7 linked regions of the Homo sapiens genome follow. Changing the gene in region 4 together with the main gene of any one other region gives a genetic interaction. Each region holds a gene or a part of one and is shown on either strand. Other genes may lie near its edges.

Region 1 (3,500 bases), on a different chromosome or scaffold from region 4:
TCTGGGAGAGAATAAACAGTGGAGAGATCTGTCTTTAAAAATATAAACGTACTCTCGGCCGGGCACGGTGGCTCACGCCTGTAATCCCAGCGCTTTGGGAGGCCGAGGTGGGTGGATTGCTTGAGGTTAGGAGCTTGAGACCAGCCTGACCAACATGGTAAAACACCATCTCTACTAAAAAAAAATACGAAAATTAGCCAGGCGTGGTGGCACATGCCTATAATTCCATCTACCCGGGAGGCTGAGGCAAGAGAACTGCTTGAACCCAGGAGGCAGAGGTTGCAGTGAGCCGAGAAAAGGAGAGGCTGAAAAAAATAAATAAATACAAATAAAGAAAAGGAGAGGCTGGCTGGGCACGGTGGCTCATGCCTGTAATCCCAGCACTTTGGGAGGCCGAGGCGGGTGGATCACAAGGTCAGGAGATCAAGACCATCCTGGCTAACACGGTGAAACCCCATCTCTACTAAAAATACAAAAAATTAGCCGGGTGTGGTGGTGGGCGCCTGTAGTCCCAGCTACTCGGGAGGCTAAGGCAGGAGAATGGCATGAACCCGGGAGGTAGAGCTTGCAGTGAGCCGAGATCACGCCACTGCACTCCTGGACGACAGAGCGAGACTCCATCTCAAAACAAACAAACAAAACAAAACAAAACAAAATATATATATATGTAGTCTCTCACAGTGACGTGTCTATGACTGTGTCTAGTAAAGCTCAGGAAGAAAGAATAGCAGTTAACATTGTTTATAAAGACTTATCAAATGTAACCCTTCAAAATATTTTATCAAATACTTATCAAATGCAACCCTTCAAAAATATTTTAAAGGATGTACTAACAATCAATTCCTGTAGTACAGTTTTACTTTCTGCTGCTAATGATTGTTCTTTTAGTATCATATTAAAAATCTGAGAAACATGAGTAGACACATTTTCTGGAATAGATGTGAGAGATCCAAGTGCTACTGTAGTAATGGTATCTAATGCAGAGACACTGGAAGACAGCAGATTACCTATAACAAACAAAAACAGAAAGATGTAAACTTTGACATAAATATATTAAATACCGTTCAAACCATTTCAAAGAAGTTGACAAAAGTATACCCTTGTTGTAGAATTTGTAATAACGAGCTTAAAAGAACTGGCTCACTACAAAGCAAGGAAATATTTAAATATACATTACAATTTTCTATAGTGCTCTGTAAGCCCTTAACATATTTGTAAGTGTATCAGACCCATAACTATAATTCATAGTACACAAAGAATTAGAATATTCTACAATTAATCTCTAACTAAAAATAATATACAGAATTATGGTAAGTTTACAGAAGAAAAAAAAAACTGGAAATCAATACCAAAAAGTATAGTGCTTGGCTTAGTGAGACTAGAGTCTAGATGATTTTTTAAATTTTTATATTTCTGAATGTCCAAATTTTCCATAATGAGGATAGTATTTCACACTAAATAAACATACTTTTTTCTAAAGGGAGATAATAGTTAAAAACAATGAGACACAAACATATTCTGACAATATAGCAAACCATCAAGATATATATGCCCCCCCCAAAAAAAGTTGCAGAATGTTTATGCACAAAAAATTTCCAGAAAAAGGCCCAAGAAATTTAACAATAACACCTATGGTCAATGACCCAGGGTCAGGAGCCGGAGTCAGGGAAAAAGAGGACTTCTACTTCTAACGTTTATATACTTAGTTACTTAATAAATGTAACATTTTATAGAAAACAGAAGGGAGGGTGGGGAGGGAAAAAAGATTTGTTTTAATTCAAAGACAATAAAAGCATTAATCTTCACCCTGAACAAATAGTTTGTGCATGGTAGAGAGTATTGGTGACACCGTCATCTATGTTTCACAAAATTATCAGTTTTGAAATCAACATTACACTTAACACATCAAGACTAGAACAGAACAGCCTGAACTTACCAAATAAGGTCTTATGTACTTCTAGCATGGCCTTTTGCTTTGAGCTGCCATCCTTAATTAATTCTTCCATATTATTAAACAGACTATTCAGGTTTTTGCCAAAAATATCCTGAGCTTCTGCATTGTGTTGGTCAACTGCCTTCTTACGATCCAGTTTGGAATGGAGACCAGATACATCTTTTGTAGTTTCTTCAACTGTGTTAAGCAGCTATATTTTTAAAAATAAGTGTTAGACAAAATGGATACGGTGAAAGGAATCTGATGAAAGTATCTACACAAGGATTTATCTTGATAAGAACTAGTAAATTTTCCAGCCTGGCCAACATGGTGAAACCCCGTCTCTACTAAAAATACAAAAATTAGCTGGGTGTGGTGGTACATACTTGTAGTTCCAGCTACTCAAGAGGCTGAGGCAGGAGAATTGCTTGAACCTGGGAGGTGGAGGTTGCAGTGAGCCAGAGATTGTGCCACTGCCACTCCAGCCGGGGTGACAGAGAGAGACTCTGTCTCAAAAAAAAAAAGTCAATTTTAGACATTGTATCAGAAGAAATGCTTTAACTCATGCTAATTTATCCAGATGCCCAGTAATGTTTATTTCCCTTCCTGTAGCCATCTACACAAGCAAGGAAAACTGATTTTTTCAGTTATTGCAATAATTATGCTTCCTCAGAAATTTTTTTCCTTCTATGTTCTACTATTTCCTCAGAAGTACACCTAATGGCCGGACGTGGTGGCTTACACCTGTAATCCCAACGCTCTGGGAGGCCTAGGCAGGTGGATCACCTGAGGTCAGGAGTTTGAGACCAGCCTGGCCAACATGGTGAAACCCAGTCTCTACTAAAAATACAAAATTAGCTGGGTGTGGTGGCAGGCGCTTGTAATCCCAGCTACTTGGGAGGCTGAGGCGGGAGAATCGCTTGAACCCGGGAGGCAAAGGTTACAGTGAACTGAGATGATGCCACTGCACTCCAGCCTGGGCTACAAAGCAAGAGTCTGTCTCAAAAAAAAAAAGTACAACTAATAAAAAATTAAAGGCCGGGCGCGGTGGCTCACGCCTGTAATCCCAGCACTTTGGGAGGCCGAGGTGGGTGGATCATGAGGTCAGGAGATCGAGACCATCCTGGCTAACAAGGTGAAACCCCGTCTCTACTAAAAATACAAAAAATTAGCCGGGCGCGGTGGCGGGCGCCTGTAGTCCCAGCTACTCGGGAGGCTGAGGCAGGAGAATGGCGTGAACCCGGGAAGCGGAGCTTGCAGTGAGCCGAGATTGCGCCACTGCAGTCCGCAGTCCGGCCTGGGCGACAGAGCGAGACTCCGTCTCAAAAAAAAAAAAAAAAAATTAAATACTTTCAACATCTTTCATCATCAGAACATACTAAATTCTTTTTTTTTTTTTTTCTGAAACAGAGTCTTGCTCTGTTACCCAGGCTGGAGTGCAGTGGCATGATCTCGGTTCACTGCAACCTCTGCCTCCTGGGTTCAAGTGATTCTCTTGCCTCAGCCTCCTGAGTAGATGGGATTATAGGCATGTGCCACCACGCCTGGCTAATTTTTGTATTTTTTT
Region 2 (3,500 bases), on a different chromosome or scaffold from region 4:
GTGATCCACCCACCTTGGCCTCCCAAAGTGCCGGGATTACAGGTATGAGCCACTGCGCTTGGCCCAAACTGAAGAGATTTTTAAAGCAATACCATAAAATGAAGAGATTTTTAAAGCAATTTATCTCATGAAGGACTAATCTGCTGACTTCACGTTCTCATGATTATCATTAAAGTCAACATTATCACCCCCTGCTTTTTTTTTTTTTAAGAGATGGGGTTTCACTATGTTGTCCAGGCTGGTTATGAACTCCTGGCCTCAAGTGATCCTCCTGCCTAAATTTCCTGAGTCATTAGGTATATACCCCATTTTATAAACAAGAAAAGCAAAATGTGAATAAGTAATTTACCTACAGACTTAAAGCAAATGAATAGCAGAACGAGGATTTGACCTCAGTTCTATACAACTCTTATTTTACACCAAAGTACCTTAGCTTGTTCTTCAGAGTGCTCATAACTGCCTAGACTCTTGCACCTAATTACCTACTCTCCGCCATTTCTTCCTTCTGATTCCATCATCCCAAATTTCCATCTCTCCAGTTCTTTGGTCCTCCAGGTCTCATGGTTTTTCTCATGCCCCTCAGCCCCTCTACTCACTTTTTCTGAAACCACAGACTTACCCAGTGACCGTAAATTAAGCTCTTCTGTGATCTTGGCCTCCCGGAGCAGTTCCTCCTGGGTTAGTGGCCGCTCACAGTGGGGCCCCTTTCGCCGTCTTGACTGGCCCTGCCTCTCCTGTACCCGAAGGAACGTTTGTCGTGTATGCTCAGCTGTAGACTGACGCATAGACTTCCGACCTGGAAGAGAGTGAGATAAGAAGAAATCTTTGAATTCATGTCCACATATTTTATTTATTTATTTTGAAATGTTGTACTTGGAAATAATTTTTTTTTCTTTTTTTTTTTTTGAGATGGAATCTCGCTCTGTCGCCCAGGCTGGAGTACAGTGGCACGATCTCGGCTCACTCCAACCTCTGCTTCCTGGGTTCAAACAATTCTCCTGCCTCAGACTCCCGAGTAGCTGGGAGTACAGGTGCATGCCACCACATCCAGCTAATTTTTTGTATTTTTAGTAGAGATGGGGTTTCATCATGTTAGCCAGGATGGTCTTGAACTACTGACCTCGTGATCTGCCTGCCTCGGCCTCCCAAAATGCTGGGATTACAGGCATGAGCAACCGTGCCTGGCCTGAAATAATTTCAAACCTACGAAGTTGCAAGAATAGTACAAGGAATACTCATGTATCTTTTACCCCATCACCTATTGGTAATATTTTGGCCCTTTTGCATTTTGTTATGTGTGGTTTTTTTCTGAATGATCTAAATTAGGTAACTAAAGTTGTACACATCATGGCCTTTATCCCTAAATATTTCAGTGTGTATTTCCTAAGAATGAGGATTTTCCTACCCATAGTAAGTTATCAACATCAGTAAATTTTTTCTTCTTTTTATTACTTTTTTCTGGTGACAGAGTTTTGCTCTTGTTGCCCAGGCTGGAGTGCAATGGTGTAACCTCCACCTCCCAGGTTCAAGCAATTCTCCTGCCTCAGCCTCCCAAGTAGCTGGGATTACAGGGGCCCACCACCACACCTGGTTAATTTTTGTATTTTTAGTAGAGACGGAATTTCACCATGTTGGCCAGGCTGGTATCGAACTCCTGACCTCAGGTGATCTACCCGCCTAGGCCTCCCAAAGTGCTGGGATTCTAGGAGTGAGCCACCGCACCCAGCAACATCAGTAAATTTAACACTGATATGATACTTTATTATTATATTCCAATTTTGCCAATTGACCCTAACATCCCTACTCACTGTCAGAGCCGTCATCTTGTAGTTCTAATGGCAGTAGTGCCTTCTCTTCTCGCGCCTTCTGAGAGCTACCAGCCGGGGTGTTGACCTTTCGAGGCCTTAAGCTCTTGAGAGGTTCCTGAGGACAGATTGGAATCAGATACTGGGGAACAGAAGAAGTCAGGAGAAATATGAGGATCTCAATGAGAGAAAACTAGCATTGCCAGAAATGGAAGTGGCATAGGGAGTACTGGGACCTGATGAAAGAGAGAATAGGAATTGAGGAAATCCAAGACAACTAGGACTCCCCCTGTACCTTATAGGCCTTGGTGACTACTCGGCGCTTCCTTCTTGGCTCTTCTGCTTCTCCATCACTGGATGGTTCATCCCCTTCATCAATGTCAAAGTCAGAGTCCACTTCGTCCTCTGTGTCTGACTGGTCCCCTTGATACTCATCATCTCCGGATTCCTAAGGACACAGGGAGATAAGGGTTGGCTGGCAATGGAAGCCTTAATGCCCCTTCAGGAGGAACAGAATCTCTCGACTTTCTTGATAAGGGCTGCCCTACTCTCCTTCCTAATCCAGCCCTTCATTTTCCTCAGGCAAGAAAACTTTCTAGCTAATGGCCTTTGGCTCCAGTACCACCTCCTTCCAACATTAATTGATAGCCCTTTACCTGCAACACACTGTTAAGTACTGGGGAACAAAAGGATATGGTTTGGTCTCTACCTTCAGGGGCTTACAGTAAAGGGGAGGACATAATCTTACTTTTTTTTTTTTGAGATGTGGATCTCGAACAGGCTTGGTGGCTCACGCCTGTAATCCCAGCACTTTGGGAGGCCGAGGTGGGCAGATCACTTGAGGCCAGGAGTTCGAGACCAGCCTGGCCAACATGGTGAAACTCTGTCTCTACTAAAAATACAAAAATTAGCTGGGCATGGTGACGCACACCTGTAGTCCCAGCTACTTGGGAGGTTGAGGCAGGAGAACTGCTTGAACCCAGGAGGCATAGGTTGCAGTGAGCTGAGATAGTGCCACTGCACTCCAGCCTGGGCGACAGGGCGAGACACAGTCTCAAAAAGAAAAAAAAAAAAAAGGATGAAGAGGACTTAAACTATGATTGAAAACACTGTTAGTATTTAGACAGCCAAGAGGGAGGAAGGAATCATGGGCAGATGAAATAGCAGAAACAAAGGCACAGAAATGGTAATGTGTATAGCATGTTTATGGAATAAGGATTTAGATCTAAGTAAAACTTTTCTCTGTCAAGAAACCTTGTTAGCCAACTGCATTTGGCTCCAGCACTGCCTCCTTCCAACACTGATTGCACTGTAGGACTGTATGATTTGAAAAGAAGGTTGCATTCCATTTATGGAGAAACTTAAATGTCACACTAATAAACACGCTTTTAACCTGCAGGCCAGTGATTCTCAATCCCCTCCATCTCCTTATTTTCCCTACCATTGATAATCATTGTTGAGGTAAACTAAAGTTACTGAGAGAAATATGTGTCATTCCTCAGGCGTGTTGGGACAGAAAAACAGCTGAGTACTGCTACTATGGATAATGGAGGGCCACTGAAGATTTAGGGGAGGGGTAATGGTATGTACAATGGGTATTTCAGAAAGCTCTGGGGGCAGTTAGATGGCCTGGAGTAGAGAACGTGAAGTACAGCCTAGACCTCAGGTGAACTGGTTAGGGCTAGAATGGCAGCC
Region 3 (3,500 bases), about 65 Mb from region 4:
CAAGAATCTAAAGTTAAGATTTTCTAATTATAACACAAATGTTTTAAAGGCTAAAATCTAAAAAATGATTGGAGATCGATCGGGTGCAGGGACTCACACCTGTAATCCCAGCACTTTGGGAGGCTGAGGCAAGAAGACTGTTTGAGGCCAGGAGACCAAGACCAGCCTGGGAACACAGCAAGACCCCATCCCCACAAAAAATTTAAAAATTAGCTGAATATGGTGGTGCATGCCTATAGTCCTAGCTACCTAGGAAGCTGAGGGGGGAGAATTCTTTGAACCCGAGAATTCAAGGTTACAGTGTGCTATGACTGTGCCACTGTACTCCAGTCTGGATGACAGAGCTACACTGACTCTCTTTCAAAAAAAAAAAAAAAAAGATTAGACATCATTTCAAATACTCATCACTTTACCATTATTCCAATGACTTAAAGATAGCTTCAAATTAAATTTCCTAATTTCAACTGGCGATGGTGCTGAAGTTAAGACACAGAGACTCCCCTTTACTGTTCTTATTGGTAGTATTATTAACAATAGCACTCAAAAAAAGGTGGGGGAACAGTGGGGAGAAAAATGAACTCAATCTTTGAAGAAGCTACATCTTCTCCCATCTCTATCAGGGCTGATGGCAACACCAACACATCAGAAAGCACGAGAAGCATTCTTCTCTGTGCTTTTATCCTTTAAATCTAACCTTTTCCTTCATGCTTTAAGTCTAATCAATGGCTGCATTCTATTGATTTCCTTCCTTAAAACAATCCCATTCCAAGCAGTCTTTAATCCGTTGGCTACTGCCTTATTTAAAATCCATGTATCTCTCACCTTACTAGTCTTCTCTAGTCTCCTATCTCTCCAAATGCATTCTCCACACTCACTCTCAGAGGGACTTGGTGCGCAGGCTGCCCTCCCTTGTTCCTGTCTGCCCGATAACCTCACACTCCTCTTACAAACCTCACCTCAATCATCGATTCATCCGACCTGATCATTTCTCCATGTAGAACTACCAAAGTTTCCCATAAGCCTCCCTCTGCTCTCTAGATACTTGTACTACAATATCTGATACTCTTTTTATTTATAAGTACGTCTTTCCCTATAATTTTTAATCTTATTAAAGGTAGAGTAATGGGTAATGTCTGTTTTTTTTGAGACGGCGTCTTGCTCTGTCACCCAGGCTGGAGTGCATTGGTGTGATCTCCGTTCACTGAAACCTCTGCCTCCTGGGTTCAAGCAGTTCTCCTGCCTCAGCTTCCTGAGTAGCTGGGATTACAGGTGTGCGCCACCACGCCCGGCTAATTTTTGTATTTTTAGTGGAGATGGGGTTTCACCATGTTGGCCAGGCTTGTCTCGAACTCCTGACCTCAGGTGATCTGCCCACCTCAGCCTCCCAAAGTGCTGGGATCACAGGTGTGAGCCACCACGCCCGGCCTAGGGAGGGTACTGTCTTATTCTCCTGTGTGCCCTGGTGCTTTGTAAAGTGTCTGGCACACAGAAGGCTCACAATAAAGTTTGTTACATGAAGGAGTGAATGGCAACATAATACAACATAACGGCAGTGATACTAAAAAGATCAAAGTTCAGGTTTAAGACATGTTACCTGCTTCCAAGACTAGTGAATATTAAGAGAGAAACACCCTCCTGCCCCCATTCTTCGGAAATTCTGTCTGGTTTATATACTATAAATTTTGGATTCTTAAGAGGTTCTCTCACAATGAAGCAAGCTAAAATATAGCTATCTTTTCTGAAAAGCCAAAAATAGGGAAAAAACCCAAGATGAGTGAGATACATTCCAATATGCTTTGGGAAATGCAGAGTAAACATCTGAACACCAAATGTGCATCACTACTACAGTGGGCATAGAAAAAAAATATCCTAAGTGAAGAATTAAACACATAACATCCTAAATGAACATTTGGTTATCAAATGTGACAAATGAAATAGTTTATGCTCAAAATTGCCAAAATTTAATTCTAAAAAGTAAATTCACTAAAGGTTAAAATAAAAATTGTCATCTCTATGACAGATTCTTACATGTTCAACAACTCTGTTCTTCAAGTCTTTCCACCTTTTTTCACCTTCCTCTGTAGAACCAAAAACATCCGTTGCAGGACTCTCAAGGGAACCTTTTCTTAATTCCATTCCATAGTCCTCAACAAGTGTGGACCAACGCATCAACTCCATTGTGGTAAAAAGCTTTAAAAGATCCCTGAAAATTGTATACATCTTAATATTCCAAATCTGTAAAAATTAAGTATTAACTAATATAATAGCAAAGTTCAAAAAATTCAGCAAAGACTGTTTTCGTTAAATTTTATTTAGTAGAATGAGACACCATATGATTATTGTGTATTTTACCAACTTTATTACCATTTTTCCCACAGTAGTTCAGAATACAGCATTCTCCCACTTAACACTCTGCTCTCTTCTGCACTGTCAATTTCTGAAATAACTGAATGTAAATGTACTCATGAAACAAACAGAAATAAGAGCCTGTTGTGTTTATGATGAAGCAAGTCTATTTTATATAATAGATTTTCACAAGTATGTATTTCTGAAAATCACAAAGCTCTAAACTACTAATGATGAAACTCTATCAAATAATTAATCAAAAGCTGCAAATGTAGACCTGATATGAAACTTCCACTTGATAAGCAATTTAGAAGAAAGTATGTTATAATCTCATTTACTGCTGATGCAATGCTAAAAAAAAATTCCACCACGTTATCCTCTCTAGTTTTATTCTCTAGTATACGCTATCAGTAACCAATTAAGAAGTACACACTTAGGCCAGGCGCAGTGGCTCAAGCCTGTAATCCCAGCACTTTGGGTGGCCGAGGTGGGCGGATCACCTGGGGTCAGGAATTCGAGACCAGCCTGGCCAACATGGTGAAACCCTGTCTCTACTAAAAATACAAAAATTAGCTCGGCATGGTAGCGGGTGCCTGTAATCCCGGCTACTCGGAAGGTTGAGGCAGAAGAATCACTTGAACCCAGGAGGCAGAAGTTGCAGTGAGCTGAGATTACACCATTACACTCCAGTGTGGGCAACAATAGTAAAACTCCATCTCAAAAAAAGAAGTATACACAGAAGTATACACTTAGGTTAGCCAATTTTCTTTCAAAATGGTGTTTCGACTGAGATATATCATGCTAATTTCAAAAGTACTTACTTGTATTTGGGAATTTCTTCTAACTTCTTGTCACCACTTATTCGGTGAACCAAATCTGACTGTTCATTGTCAAAAGGAGCCAGGATAACATAGAGTACAACACTCTTCAGAGCCTAAAAGAGTTGTACAACAAGTTATATGCAAGACTGGACATAATGGAAACTTTGACAAAAACTGAACAATCATGGAATAACTATATATCCATTTCAAATTTTAAAGTCTTGGCCGGGCGCAGTGGCTCACGTCTGTAATCCCAGCACTTTGGGAGGCCAAGGTGGGCAGATCTCCTGAGGTCAGATCGAGGCTATCCTGGCTAACACAGTGAAACCCCAT
Region 4 (3,500 bases):
GAACAGAAAATTGGTTAACACCAACTCCATCACTCCTTTCTTGTTTCACATTTGCACTCAGCAGGCCAGTCTGGCACCTTACTGAGTAACTAACCGAACAAGTAACAAAGGATAACTATTTTAGAAATATTGTATCTCATGTATAAATTGGTCTTTTTTTCTACAGGGAAAACTAATGTTGCAATTATTAAAATCTATCTCTAGAACCACATTTATAAGGTTTCTATCACATAACCAACTGTAATAGTGATAAGGTATATAAAGTCACAAGACATAGTCCGCTCCCTGTCTCAGAGCAGGAATGACATGTAAATAAGGAAACTTAAGGGGAAGAAATAAGAGGAAAGAAAGAGAAAGAGATGGAAAGGAAAGGGAAAGAAAGGGGAAAGGGAAGGGGAAGGGAAGGAGCTTCAGAGGGCTATAGCAGGCATTTGTATGTAGAATATTTGAGGAACAATGGATGAATACTCGATCCTACTAGACCATCAGAACTCAGACATCTAAAGGGCCAAGGAAAGATTTCAGAAGATGTTAACTGTTCACGAATAGCAAATGAACAAGAGCATATGTCATTTTGAGTTAAAAAATGAAATATGGCCGGGCGCAGTGGCTCACGCCTGTAATCCCAGCACTTAGGAAGGCCAAGGCGGGCGGACCACGAGGTCAGTTCGAGACTATCCTGGCTAATATGGTGAAACCCCGTCTCTACTAAAAAACACAAAAAATTAGCCAGGCACAGTGGTGGGCGCCTGTACTCCCGGCTACTCGGGAGGCTGAGGCAGAATTGCTTGAACCTGGGAGGCGGAGGCTGCAGTGAGCCAAGATCATACCACTGCACTCCAGCCTGGGTAACAAGAGTGAAACTCCATCTCAAAAAAAAAAAAAAAATTCTAATTGCTGGCTAAATCACTATTATAGAAAACATTATAGTGAACATTTTTTAATATAAAAAAATTCTGTCCTCATTTTATAATACCTAGGTCAGACAGTAATGGGGAGAAACAATTAGTGGGTCAAAAAGTATAAACTTTTAAAGCCTTCATATACTCTATTAAATTGATATCCCGTAAGACTGTATCATATGTAATGAGAATGACTACTTTATCAAAATCTTATCATCACTGGGAATTCTTATTTAATAGGTAAAATACCTTGACAATTTGACACACATATATATGTATGTGTGTCTCACTCTTGTCGCCCAGGCTGGAGTGCAGTGGCGCGATCTTGGCTCACTGCAAGCTCCGCCTCCCGGGTTCACGCCATTCTCCTGACTCAGCCTCCCGAGTAGCTGGGACTACAGGAGCCCGCCATCACTCCCGGCTAATTTTTTGTATTTTTTAGTAGAGACGGGGTTTCACCATGTTAGCCAGGATGGTCTCGATCTCCTGACCTCATGATCCACCCACCTTGGCCTCCCAAAGTGCTGGGATTACAGGCATGAGCTACCGTGCCCAGTCCAATTTTTTTGTTTTTAAGACAGGGTCTCACTCTTCGCCCAGGCTGGAGTACACTGGCTCAATCATAGCTCACTGCAGCCTCCAACTCCCAGGCTCATGTGATCCTCCCATCTCAGCCTCCTGAGTAGCTAGGACTACAGGCATGCACCACCATACCTGGCTAATTTTAAGTAGAGACGAGGTCTTGCTATGTTGCCCAGGCTGCTCTCTAACTCCTGAGCTCAAGCAGTCCTCCCACCTTGGCCTCCCAAAGTCCTAGGACTATAGGCATGAGCTACCACACCCGGCCCATAATTTCAGTGTTTATTTCTTCTGCTGTTAGTAGTAAGGCCAAACCGTCGTTACTATTTGGTTAGTTGTAACTACCTTTTTGAGACAGTCTCGCTCTGTCGCCCAGGCTGGAGTGCAGTGGAGCGATCTTGGCTAACTGCAACCTGTCTCCTGGGTTCAAGCGAATTTCCTGCCTCAGCCTTCCAAGTAGCTGGGACTACAGGCGCACGCTGCCATGCCCAGCTAATTTTTTTGTATTTTAGTAGAGATGGGGTTTCTCCGTGTTGCTCAGGCTGGTCTTGAACTCCTGAGCTCAGGCAATCCACCCGCCTCGGCCTCCCAAAGTGCTGGGATTACAGGCGTGAGCCACCGTGCCCGGCCGATTGGTTATACTTTTGTAAATGAAACTTAATATCTGTAACTTACTTTGAAATAACCCTTAGGATAGAGGCATCTACCTAAATCTACCTATATTGCAACTATCTTATCTTTCTGTAGGTGGTTTATACAACGGTCATTTTATTGTGTCCGGAACAAAGGCAACTTAAAAACAACTCTTTTCCTAATTAAAAAAGCACAACATTAAAAGGTAATAATATTTTTACTGTGAAAAAAATTTTTTAATGAAATACGTAATTTATAAAATGAAAAGCTTGTATATTCCCACACTCCTGGAAAGCCAATTTTAAATACATCAAGGAAAGCCCAATTTAAATGAATCCTCTACTGAATTCTTTTGCAGTATAGATTCACCCTATCAATTACTAGTTTTGTCAATCAGTATTTCACACATAACCTCCGTTTAAAGGTAAGACACACACTTTTCATTCTCCAAGAACAAAAATTGTTCAAGCACAAGGTGATGTACTGACATCAACTCAGTTAGTGACACCCGACTTTCTCAAATTCACCATCAAACTTACCTGGCAGCATGCCTCTCAGGAGCCACAATGATATTTTATTCCAATTCTGTCTTTTAAGATTTAGAACCAAATCACACGTTTCAGAGTACCTCCTGTCCCTCTTCATAGGCCCTCATTTTCAGGATCTTTTAATTTTCTTCACCCTATTAAGTCTGCTTTTTTTTTTTGAGACAGAGTGTGGCTCTGTCGCCCAGGCTGGAGTGCAGTGGTGCAATCTCGGCTCACTGCAAACTCCGCCTCCCGGGTTCATGCCATTCTCCTGCTTCAGCCTCCCGTTAAGTCTGCTTTTAACAAAAAATTACCTTAATTGTAGCATCCTCTGAAGCAGAGACCATAACACTGAACACAGGATGGAAAATGACTCGAGTGACTGGACTCCTGTGACCACTCAATGCATATTTTTCTGGCGGACGGGGAATCCATTCTTTTGGGTCTCGTTTCTGACCAAGAGGTCCACCTGACGTAAATTCTTCTTTTGCTTCATTTAGCTTTGATTCTAATTCCATAACCTTGAAAAAGAACATGTAGTTACGTACAGATAGATTTCAATAAAAATAGCATGTGACATTTTAAAAAACTGCCTTTATTTTGCAACTATGTATGTAGGATACTTGAAAAAATTTCAGTAATCTCCAAAGCATTTGTCAAATTTAAATGAAAATTATTTATTTTGTACAGCATCAAAATCTAAGTCATGTGAGGAAACTAAAAATTGAGAAAAATTCAGTACAATTGCCTTAACTCTTTAACAAAAAGAAAAATTTCGATTTGTATCTGGTGACAGAGTCCTCTACTAATTAGAGAAGGGCAGTGAATTTGTCTTGGTCCCTCTAAGGCTGCTACTCTT
Region 5 (3,500 bases), on a different chromosome or scaffold from region 4:
AGAATTTTACTTAGGTACCGGATAGTTTTGTATTTCTAATTCTTGAGCTTTATAATGAGATACCGTTATCTGGAAATGGTTTGATCCTTTCGGATATTACTTCTTAGATCTGTTAGGCAGGACCAGAGCCCTGTTTAGGATAGGGCTAATTATTCCCCTTATGATTGAGGTAAGAATTCTGAGTACTGTATCCAATGTCTTATGAATTACAAAGATTTCCATTCTGGCTGGTAGTTACAGGCACTATCCTCAGCCCTGTGTAAGCACGGTGCACGGTTCACTCTAATCCTTCTAGATGGTTCCCTCCCAGCTTTCTGAGTACTTTCCTCACACATCTGCTAATCAATGCTCTGAATACTTAAGGGGGACACTTCTACAGATCTCCAGCATTCTTTCTGTGCAGTTCTCCCCTCTCAGGTACTGTTATTCAAACTCTACCTGCCTTGGTCTCCCAGGTCTTCTAAACTCCTCCTACTCACTTCAGTGTGTCCACTGGGTTCTCCCTGCTATACTGAGGCCTGGAACTCTCTGAAGGCAGTGAGCTGGGGCAACCCAAGAAATCACTTTGCTTGTTTCCTGTCTCTAAGGGATCACTGTACTCTGATGCCTGATGTCCAGTGTCTTGAAAACCATTGTTCTGTATGCTTTACCTGAGTTTTCTTGGTTGTTTCAAGTAGAAGCATAAATCTAATCTCTGTTACTCCATCTTGGCTGGAAGATGACAGCTCTTCCCATTTTCATTTCTTCAGTTTTGATATTCCAATTTACTGATACTTTGCTCTTCAGCTGTATCCAGCCTGTTATTCATATTATCTGCTGAATTTATTTCAAATTTATTTCAGTAGCTTTCAAGATTTCTAATTTCTAATTTCTCACCATAAACACTTGTTTTATAACTAAATGCTTATTTATAGTGACAAATTTCACAGCTGTTGTTCCTGCCTTCGTCTATTTAAGGCTATATTCTTAAACTGTATTTGAGATTGCTCTATTATCTCTATTTCTTGGAGTATAAGCAAGCAGCAAAAGACAGTGGTTAGGAGTGTGATCTCTAGAGCCAGACTACCTGTGTTCAAATTCTAGCTGTAGTATTTAGTAGGCAAGTTACTCTCTCTGTGCCTTATTTCACCATTCTCGAAAGTGAGGATAATAAGAGTACCTGTTTTAAAGGATTAGTGTGAGAATTAAAGGATACACTTAGAATGGTATCCATTTGTTTTGCTGACACTGCCTTGCAGTCCTTTGGAATGGTGCTTGGCATACGGTAGGGCTCAATAAAAAAGAGTTCCCTGTTACTACCACTTTCCCTCTTTTTCCTTTTCCATGTTAGTTGCTCATGTTTTTCATCTACCTTAGGTGCTTTGTCATTCTTGGCTGAAAACTCATCTTCCATAGATTTATTTTAGGTGTCCTGGACTGGTGGCCCATTCTAAGATAGGAAGCCGTACCCTAGCTTTAGGCCTCTAGATCAGGCCTTGTAGTATTTTTGGTCCAGATCCAAAAAACACATGGATGGTGCTTCTCAATCTCTGGCTGTGACAAATGGCACATTTCTGACTCCCAACTTCAGTGAGGCAGGGTAGCATGCTTTGTCAGATTCTATTCCCGACAATCCCCTGCTGTGGTTCCCATCTGCTCCTTTCTTTTGGGGGGAAACCTCTCTCTTCCTAATCAATGGAGACTTCCCTTCTTGCTTTTGAACAGGTCTATCCTGATAATTATATTTTCTTACTATTTCCTATTTTTTTATATGCTTAGAGTTTCAGCAAGTGCTCAATCTACCATATTGAATCTTCACTTTATTTTTGACTGTCTTCACAAATGGATTCTACTTAGCCCTTGTACATTCTAAGTGGTTACCATCAGTATACTGGAACACTACATATTAAACTTTTTAATCACCAGTCACCTTGATGAATTCTATGATGCTTCTAACAGTTTTTCAGTTGATTCTCTCCCTTCTCTCTCCAGTTTCCAGTTTGTTCTCTTCATGGTAGACCCCCCCACGTATAAAGGCTATGCTTATTCCTGACTTCATGCCTTTGTTCTTGCTTTTCTCCTCTGCCTTTTATCCTCCCTTCATATAACTCAATGCTGTTTTCTTAGTCCATCTCATTTGTGGTTTCTTCTTTAAGCCTTCTTTTCAAATGGACACCTATTTTTACTTCCTATTTTCACAAATCGCCTGTAATCAAAAACTATTTCTTTAGTGCCTACCATATGATCAGTACAGGTTGAACACTCCTAATTCCAAAATCTGAAATGTGAAATGCCGCAAAATCCAAAACTTATTAAGTACTGACATAACACCGTAGTGGAAAATTCCACACCTCATATAATGGATCAAAGTCAAAATGCAGGTGCACAATACACAGTTCATTCAGCATCCCTGAGGGAAAAAACCAAAATTACCTTCAGGCTATGTGTATAAGGTATATATAAAACATACAAGAATTCTGTGTTTGGACTTGGGTCCCATCCCCAAGATATCTCATTATGTATGTGAAAATATTACAAAAAAAAAAATCTGAAATCCAAAACATGGTCCCAAGGTTTTTGGATGAGAGATAATCAACCTCTAACTATATGTATTTTGTGCCTATTATGCTACTGCTGCAAATACAGTTATGAACAAGGTATATATGGTCCCACTCCTCACAGATATTAGTCCAGGAGGAGAGATAGATATTAAAGTAATAACTGATTCCAGATATAAGTAAAATAAATAAAGAGTGGAATACTTCTGAAACAAATTACAAGGGCATCTTACCAAGTTTGGAAGGACACAGTGTTTAGCAAAGACTTGTCTGAAGAAGTGACAATTACACTTAGACATCAAAAGTGAGTAGAAATCAACCAGACTAATACAGAGGCAGGAGGAAGGGTGATGGTTGAGAGCAAAGAAAACAGCTTGTGTGATGGTCCCTACACTAGAGGGAACTTGGTAAATTCAGACCTGAACTGCTATTGTGAAGGCAATGTAATTAACGGGGTGAATGGGTATAAAATATGAGGTAAGTCCTAGTGAAGATCTTAGAACTGTGGAAAGCTACTGGATGATATAAAATAGGAACATAAAAAAATCAAACTTGCATTTTAAGGACTTTTTGGCTGAGTATCAAATGAATCTTTAAAAAGTCCAGTTATATCACAATTTTGATAAAAGACTGGTGGGTAGGATGAACAGGAGATATTTAGCCAACCTGAAATGAGTCAAGAATTGAAAGGGCTTAGTGAAGAACAGGAGGCAGAGGAGGTGAGAAAGCAAGACTGACTTCTAGATTTCTTTCTCAAATGTGCAACTGGATTGATGGTGGTAGCATGGACTGTTTCGCTGGTACTGCCTTGCAGTGCTAGTCAAATGGAATCTATATACCATAGATTCTCTTAACTCCTTTCTCTATAACGTGTTTTTTTTTTTTTTTTTGAGATGGAGTCTAGCTCTGTCACCCAGTCTGCAGTGCAGTGGCGCAATCTCAGCTCACGACAACCTTCGCCTC
Region 6 (3,500 bases), on a different chromosome or scaffold from region 4:
ACAGAGTGAAGCACAATCTCTAAACACACACACACACACACACACACACACACACACACACACACACACGCATGCACACACACAGATATATATAAAAGTATACTGTCATTTAAAAAGATACATTATTTATATATTTTGACGTTTACTATGCAAAATATAAAGTACTTACGAAAGAAGTAGGATGAATGGTATAATAAACACTTATGTACCTGTCACCTGAATTCAAATAGTTTACATAATTATCAACATGTAGCCAATCACGTTTCATCTATAACTCTACCTTTCTGAGGCAGACTTCAGACTTCAGTATATATAGAACATAAATTCATAAAGGCAAGTATTAGATTGGGAAAATCCCTTATACAATGAACGTGTATTAAAAACACTTCTTCCTTACTACTTAAAAATATATTAAATTATACTTAGCACCCAGATCTCAGTTTCTAAATATCATTTTCCAATAAGAATTCTCCAACAGTTCCTTGAAAAATGGCTGTTTCTAGGGCTGGGGCAGAAACAATACAAGACAATGAGCTTGGAGCATCTTAAAGTACCAGGAAGTCGGAACACACTTCAGAAAAGTAAAAGGATGGTGGCATGCCTAAAAGGACACAAGAGCCAAATGAATTGGGTTCCCAGAGCTGAAAGAATTTAAGCAACAATATAAACAAAAGTATGGGATCATAACCTGAAGAATAAAATAAATAACCATCAGTCCATACTGATATACCCAAATAACTGAATAAATAAATAAATGGGACAGAGAGAACAAATCTTCCTTGCAGAAAAATTCAACTAACAAGTGTAGAATGAATAAAGAAAACTGAAAATCACTATTAAAACACCATGGAAGTAATTGCTGTAGATAAGATTCCCTGATGAATGCTAAAAATAGTAGGAAAAAGTTTAAGGAAAAAGAAGATGTTTGCCTAGCCTCAAGGTAGCGCGCTATTAATTACTACAGTGATTTTAATGTAAGCCCAAAAACTTTTTGATACTCCTCCCTCTAGAAACTGAAATACAGTGCCTGGAATGCAGGCAGGGTTTAGTGACCTATTTCTAATGAACAGGGTATAGAAGAGGAAAAATTATAATTTTACCATGGAGAAACCTGGCAAGTACCAGCTTAACCAAGTGATTAAGGTTAACATCACCAGTAAAAGTCATGTTGCTATCATGAACCCCTGATATGATGCAATGAGAAGGGCCCTTTATTTCTGTGATAGTTTTCTCAAAAATTCAAAAGTCTCAATCTAATGAGAAAACGTCAGACACACCAGAATTGAGGGACATTCTACAAAATACCTGACCACTGCTTTCAAAGTGTCAAGGTCACTGCTATGTGAAATCCTAACCCCTAGGGTAATAGTATTAGGAGATGCGGCCTTTGCAAGGTGATTAGTTCATAGGGCAAAGCTCTCATGAACGGAATTAGTGTCCTTACGAAGAGACCCCAGAGAGCTCCCTTGTCCCTTCTACCATGTGAGGACACAGAAAAGATGGCCATCTACAAACCAAAAAGTGGGCCCCCACCAAGCCAATGAATTGGCCAGTGGCCTGACCTCGGACTTCTAGCTGCCAGAACTGTGACAAATTAACTTCTTCTATTGTTTATAAGCCAGTCAGTCTATTGTATTTTATTACTGCAGCCCCAAAGGACTGAGACAATCGCAAAAGACCAAGAAACTGTCACAGATTAGAAGAAACCAAGGGGACATGTGACTAAATGTAATGTATAGCATTGATTGGATCCTGAAAAAGAACATGAGTGGAAAAACTGAGGAAAGCCTCAGTTTTTTGTTTTTTTTTTAAAGTCTGTTGTTTAGCTAAGAGTACTGTATCTATGTTAATTTCTTAGTTTTGATAAATGTACCATGGTTACATAAGATGTTAACAATAAGGGAAGCTGAGTGAAGGGATATAGAAACTATTTGAACTATCTTTGCAATTCTCTTATAAATCTAAAATTATTTCAAAATAGAGTTTTAAACAATAAAAAAATACATACACTAAATTCAGGTGTCCTAAAAATAATTTTTATAAGGATTGAAACATAAAACCAAGATTCCTTCAAGAAATAAGAACCATAAGAAGCCTTATCCATTAAATAATGAACACTTCTTGTCAAAAAGTGAATGCTTGTTTTACAAGAACAATCTCAGGTATGCTTTTCAATTTATAACCAAAAAACAGCAAAGCTCACATACTGACCTGGCTTTTATTAACATGATCGTTGGGATGCACAGGTATCTTGCTGCCAAGTTCACCTCCTAACATTTCAATTGCTCTATTGCTAATGACTTCATTTACATTCATATTTGTCTGAGTTCCTGATCCAGTCTGCCATACCACGAGAGGAAAATGATCATTTAATTTACCTTCAGCTACCTGCAGAAAAAATGTTAAAAATGTATTTTAAAAAAGGAAATAATAATGCTGATTATGCCACAGAGTTTGAATACAGTTGACCCACATATCTAAGCTTCTGAAGCATCACTTGCTCCAACCACAGATACTTTAAAAAGTGAAATATTATCTATAGTGAATGGTATGACAATTCACTGGTTTCAAATGAAAAGGGAATCAAAGGTATCTTTCTTATCTCTCTCCCACAGCCTCCTCTAACAGAGGACCACCTGTTAAGGCTGGCAAATACGTTTAGTCTCTAGATATATTTGTTGCTGGTGCTCAGCAGGAATATCCAACAGATGTTATTGCCAGAGTCAGCATGCTAATGAGCTAGTAACTTGAAAATGTGAGTTCACTAATAGCTACTTCATTGCACAGATGTCCAATGAGCAGTAATCACCAAATGTAGAAATAAACGCTGCCCAGATTTGCCCCTATTTTTGTTGTATTTTTATACATCCAGCTTATGTGTTAGTTTTTGGATGGTGTGCTTTGTAAAATATGGGTGGTTAACAATCTTCTGGAATGATTTTAGCTTAAAAAATCAGAATGCACTTGAGAAATCTATTACCTTGAACAACTGGTCCACTTTAAAATAAAACTTTTTTCTGGTTATATAAAAATATGTGATTAGTGTAGAAAATTTTGAGAACTGAGAAAAGTAAAACAGTCACTATAGTTCTATTGCTCAGTAATTATGACTATTAGCATGTTGGCATCCCCAGTCTCTATCTCATGCAATGAGGGTGTGTGTGTGTGTGTGTGTGTGTGTGTATATGAGAAACACACACTTTCTGTTCATTTTTTCCTAAACAAAATTAGGATCGTAAAATACATATATTTTTGCAAACTTTCCTCCCTATTTCTCATAGGCTAGGCTTTGTGCATGCCAATCTTCAAAAAAGTAATTTTCTATAATTTACCATATAAATATAATTTATATAAGTAGCTGTTATAGTTACGCATTGTCTAATTTGTTTTCATTATTATAAATAGTGCTGTAATTAACAACACTATATATACAGTTCTGTTACCTCTGATTGCTTCTTTAAGACAATGTTATTAGCATATTAGTAAAATTACATTCTCAA
Region 7 (2,548 bases), on a different chromosome or scaffold from region 4:
CTTGCCTGGACCCCCTGACCAGGAAGGGCCGAGTGTGGGTAATCATCAGTTGAATGTCTGCATGGCCCCCACTTTTATTATAAATCTACAATGTATCATAGGAAGCCTTACTGTTCATCCACCCCTCACGTTATAGACAGGGAAACCAAGGCCCTGGGAGGAGATGGGTCCTGGCCAGAATCACACTGAAAGTGGGTGGGAAAGTCAGACCTAGAACCCAGGTCTCCTTCCTCCCAGCTCCAGACTCCATCTCCCTCCTTTCTGAATTTTCATTCCATTGATAGATTTCAGGCCCTTTCATTAACATTCTGGAGTCATTTTCTGTCCCCCACCCTAACTGGAGTTTTTAGTATAAAGAGACAGGGAAAAGCTGTAAGTTAGAAATGAAGTCAGGGTGTGAAATTGGTGGAAAGGTGTGAGCTTAGGAGACCAGCTGGGGCAGAGTGACCGCCAAGCCTTGCTCTCCCCATCTGTGCCATTGTAAGAAAAGATGGAGTCACTCCCTGCACCCTCTTCGCTCTTAGGTACCATAAGATCTGTCCCCCAACTCTCCCAGATCTGTGACCCCACATTCTCTCTCCATAGGTGGAAAAGAGGCTGCTTCAGGCACCACACCTCAGAAGTCCCGGAAGCCCAAGAAAGGGGCTGGGAACCCCCAAGCCTCAACCCTGGCGCTGCAAAGCAACATCACCCAGTGCCTCCTGGGCCAACCCTGGCCCCTGAATGAGGCCCAGGTGCAGGCCTCAGTGGTGAAGGTCCTGACTGAGCTGCTGGAACAGGAAAGAAAGAAGGTGGTGGACACCACCAAGGAGAGCAGCAGGAAGGGCTGGGAGAGCCGCAAGCGGAAGCTATCGGGAGACCAGCCAGCTGCCAGGACCCCCAGGAGCAAGAAGAAGAAGAAGCTGGGGGCCGGGGAAGGTGGGGAGGCCTCTGTTTCCCCAGAAAAGACCTCCACGACTTCCAAGGGGAAAGCAAAGAGAGACAAAGCAAGTGGTGATGTCAAGGAGAAGAAAGGGAAGGGGTCTCTTGGCTCCCAAGGGGCCAAGGACGAGCCAGAAGAGGAGCTTCAGAAGGGGATGGGGACGGTTGAAGGTGGAGATCAAAGCAACCCAAAGAGCAAGAAGGAGAAGAAGAAATCCGACAAGAGTGAGTGACCGCTTCTCCCAGCCCACCCCAAGGGCTGCTGGGCACCCCACGGGGGCGGGAGGGACCCTCAGCCAGCACCTGGTCTCATTCCTCCCATGTAGAAAAGAGAGGCTGAGACCAGCCTGGCCAACATGGCAAAACCCCGTCTCTACTAAAAATACAAAAAATTAGCTGGATGTGGTGGCGGGCACCTGTAATCTCAGCTACATGGGAGGCTGAGGCAGGAGAATTGTTTGAACCCGGGAGGCAGAGCTTGCAGTGAGCCGAGATCACGCATTGCACTCCAGCCTGGGTGACAGAGCAAGACTGTCAAAAAAAAAAAAAAAAAAAAAGGCTGAGAAGTGGTTTGTCCAGAGTCACAGGGGCAGCTTGTGGCAAAGCCCGAACTCGATTCCAGAGCACTTGAGTCAGCACTGCCAGGAATGCTCCAGAAGGACGAGGAGTCATGTCCTCTTTCCCCAAGCCCAGTGCAGCAGATCTTGGAGGAACCTGCTTCTCCAGCCAGCTCCTGGGTGCAGAATGGACCAGGAACCAGACTGTCAGAATCCTCATCCCAAACCCCATCTTGTCTCTAGACCTCAGTTTTCCCTCCATAGTAACACTGGCCCTTTACTGAGTGCTGTTCTAGACTCCGCATGCAGCAGGACCTCATTTAGGTAGAAATGAGACTCAGCAGGTAGAAAACTGCGGCTCGGGCTCGGAGAAGTAGAGATGCTGTTCAGGGCCACAGAGTTTTGCTAGGTGGAGCCAGAGTCAAACCTAGGCAGCACTCTCGAGCATCGCCCTGGACGGTGGGTTGCCAGTGACGCCCGAAGAGCCAGCTCGTTCTGGAACAAAAGTCGGGCACCCTCAGAGCAGGACTTGCAGCCCCTTGGTGCTCAGAACTGTGCTAGATTTCCATTTACAGTAGGGATAGATAGTGTCCATTTAAAATAAATTTGCGGGAGTTTTAAAAAGTGAGTTGAGCTAAAGAAAAATGGTAGTCATCCAGGTGGTCCATGGATGGGACAGAAATCATGAGCTGGCCTCCAGGGGGCAGGTGAACTGGCCCTGCTGGGTGATCACCACAGCTGCCAGCCTGTTTTATTTTTATTTTTTGAGACAGGGTCTTGCTCTGTCACCCAGGCTGGAGTTCAGTGTCAGGAACGCAGCTCACTGCAGGCTCAGCCTCCCAAGCTCAAGCGATCCTCTTGCTTCAGCCCCCCAAATAGCTGGGACCACAGGCGTGCACCACCATCCCCAGCTAATTTTTGTATTTTTTGTAGAGACAGGTCTCACTATGTTGCCCAAGCTGGTCTTGAACTCCTGGGCTTAAGCAATCCACCCGCCTCAGCCTCCCAAAGTGCTGGGATTGCAGGAATGAACCTCCACGCCCCGCCCTGCTGGCCTGTTGTGATGGCTT

The links.
Region 1: changes in PAFAH1B1 (region 4) and KIF11 together harm fitness less than expected from each alone (positive genetic interaction), as found in Homo sapiens cells (one large-scale study listed by BioGRID).
Region 2: changes in PAFAH1B1 (region 4) and VPS72 together harm fitness more than expected from each alone (negative genetic interaction), as found in Homo sapiens cells (one large-scale study listed by BioGRID).
Region 3: changes in PAFAH1B1 (region 4) and PSMD12 together harm fitness less than expected from each alone (positive genetic interaction), as found in Homo sapiens cells (one large-scale study listed by BioGRID).
Region 5: changes in PAFAH1B1 (region 4) and MZT1 together harm fitness more than expected from each alone (negative genetic interaction), as found in Homo sapiens cells (one large-scale study listed by BioGRID).
Region 6: changes in PAFAH1B1 (region 4) and FH together harm fitness more than expected from each alone (negative genetic interaction), as found in Homo sapiens cells (one large-scale study listed by BioGRID).
Region 7: changes in PAFAH1B1 (region 4) and TCOF1 together harm fitness more than expected from each alone (negative genetic interaction), as found in Homo sapiens cells (one large-scale study listed by BioGRID).

Annotation. Positions count from the first base shown.
Region 1 is NC_000010.11:92,631,130-92,634,629, reverse strand, and holds part of KIF11 (kinesin-like protein KIF11), read right to left. Parts: intron 2,145-3,500; coding exon 1,937-2,144; intron 1,008-1,936; coding exon 835-1,007; intron 1-834. UniProt on the Homo sapiens protein: Motor protein required for establishing a bipolar spindle and thus contributing to chromosome congression during mitosis. Required in non-mitotic cells for transport of secretory proteins from the Golgi complex to the cell surface.
Region 2 is NC_000001.11:151,183,698-151,187,197, forward strand, and holds part of VPS72 (vacuolar protein sorting-associated protein 72 homolog), read right to left. Parts: intron 2,254-3,500; coding exon 2,101-2,253; intron 1,924-2,100; coding exon 1,809-1,923; intron 797-1,808; coding exon 620-796; intron 1-619. UniProt on the Homo sapiens protein: Deposition-and-exchange histone chaperone specific for H2AZ1, specifically chaperones H2AZ1 and deposits it into nucleosomes.
Region 3 is NC_000017.11:67,342,578-67,346,077, forward strand, and holds part of PSMD12 (26S proteasome non-ATPase regulatory subunit 12), read right to left. Parts: intron 3,281-3,500; coding exon 3,168-3,280; intron 2,236-3,167; coding exon of another isoform or gene 2,204-2,235; coding exon 2,029-2,203; intron 1-2,028. UniProt on the Homo sapiens protein: Component of the 26S proteasome, a multiprotein complex involved in the ATP-dependent degradation of ubiquitinated proteins.
Region 4 is NC_000017.11:2,666,654-2,670,153, reverse strand, and holds part of PAFAH1B1 (platelet-activating factor acetylhydrolase IB subunit beta), read right to left. Parts: intron 3,163-3,500; coding exon 2,956-3,162; intron 1-2,955. UniProt on the Homo sapiens protein: Regulatory subunit (beta subunit) of the cytosolic type I platelet-activating factor (PAF) acetylhydrolase (PAF-AH (I)), an enzyme that catalyzes the hydrolyze of the acetyl group at the sn-2 position of PAF and its analogs and participates in PAF inactivation.
Region 5 is NC_000013.11:72,721,130-72,724,629, forward strand, and holds part of MZT1 (mitotic-spindle organizing protein 1), read right to left. Parts: intron 1-3,500. UniProt on the Homo sapiens protein: Required for the recruitment and the assembly of the gamma-tubulin ring complex (gTuRC) at the centrosome.
Region 6 is NC_000001.11:241,509,756-241,513,255, forward strand, and holds part of FH (fumarate hydratase, mitochondrial), read right to left. Parts: intron 2,389-3,500; coding exon 2,212-2,388; intron 1-2,211. UniProt on the Homo sapiens protein: Catalyzes the reversible stereospecific interconversion of fumarate to L-malate. Experiments in other species have demonstrated that specific isoforms of this protein act in defined pathways and favor one direction over the other.
Region 7 is NC_000005.10:150,395,697-150,398,244, forward strand, and holds part of TCOF1 (treacle protein), read left to right. Parts: intron 1-585; coding exon 586-1,146; intron 1,147-2,548.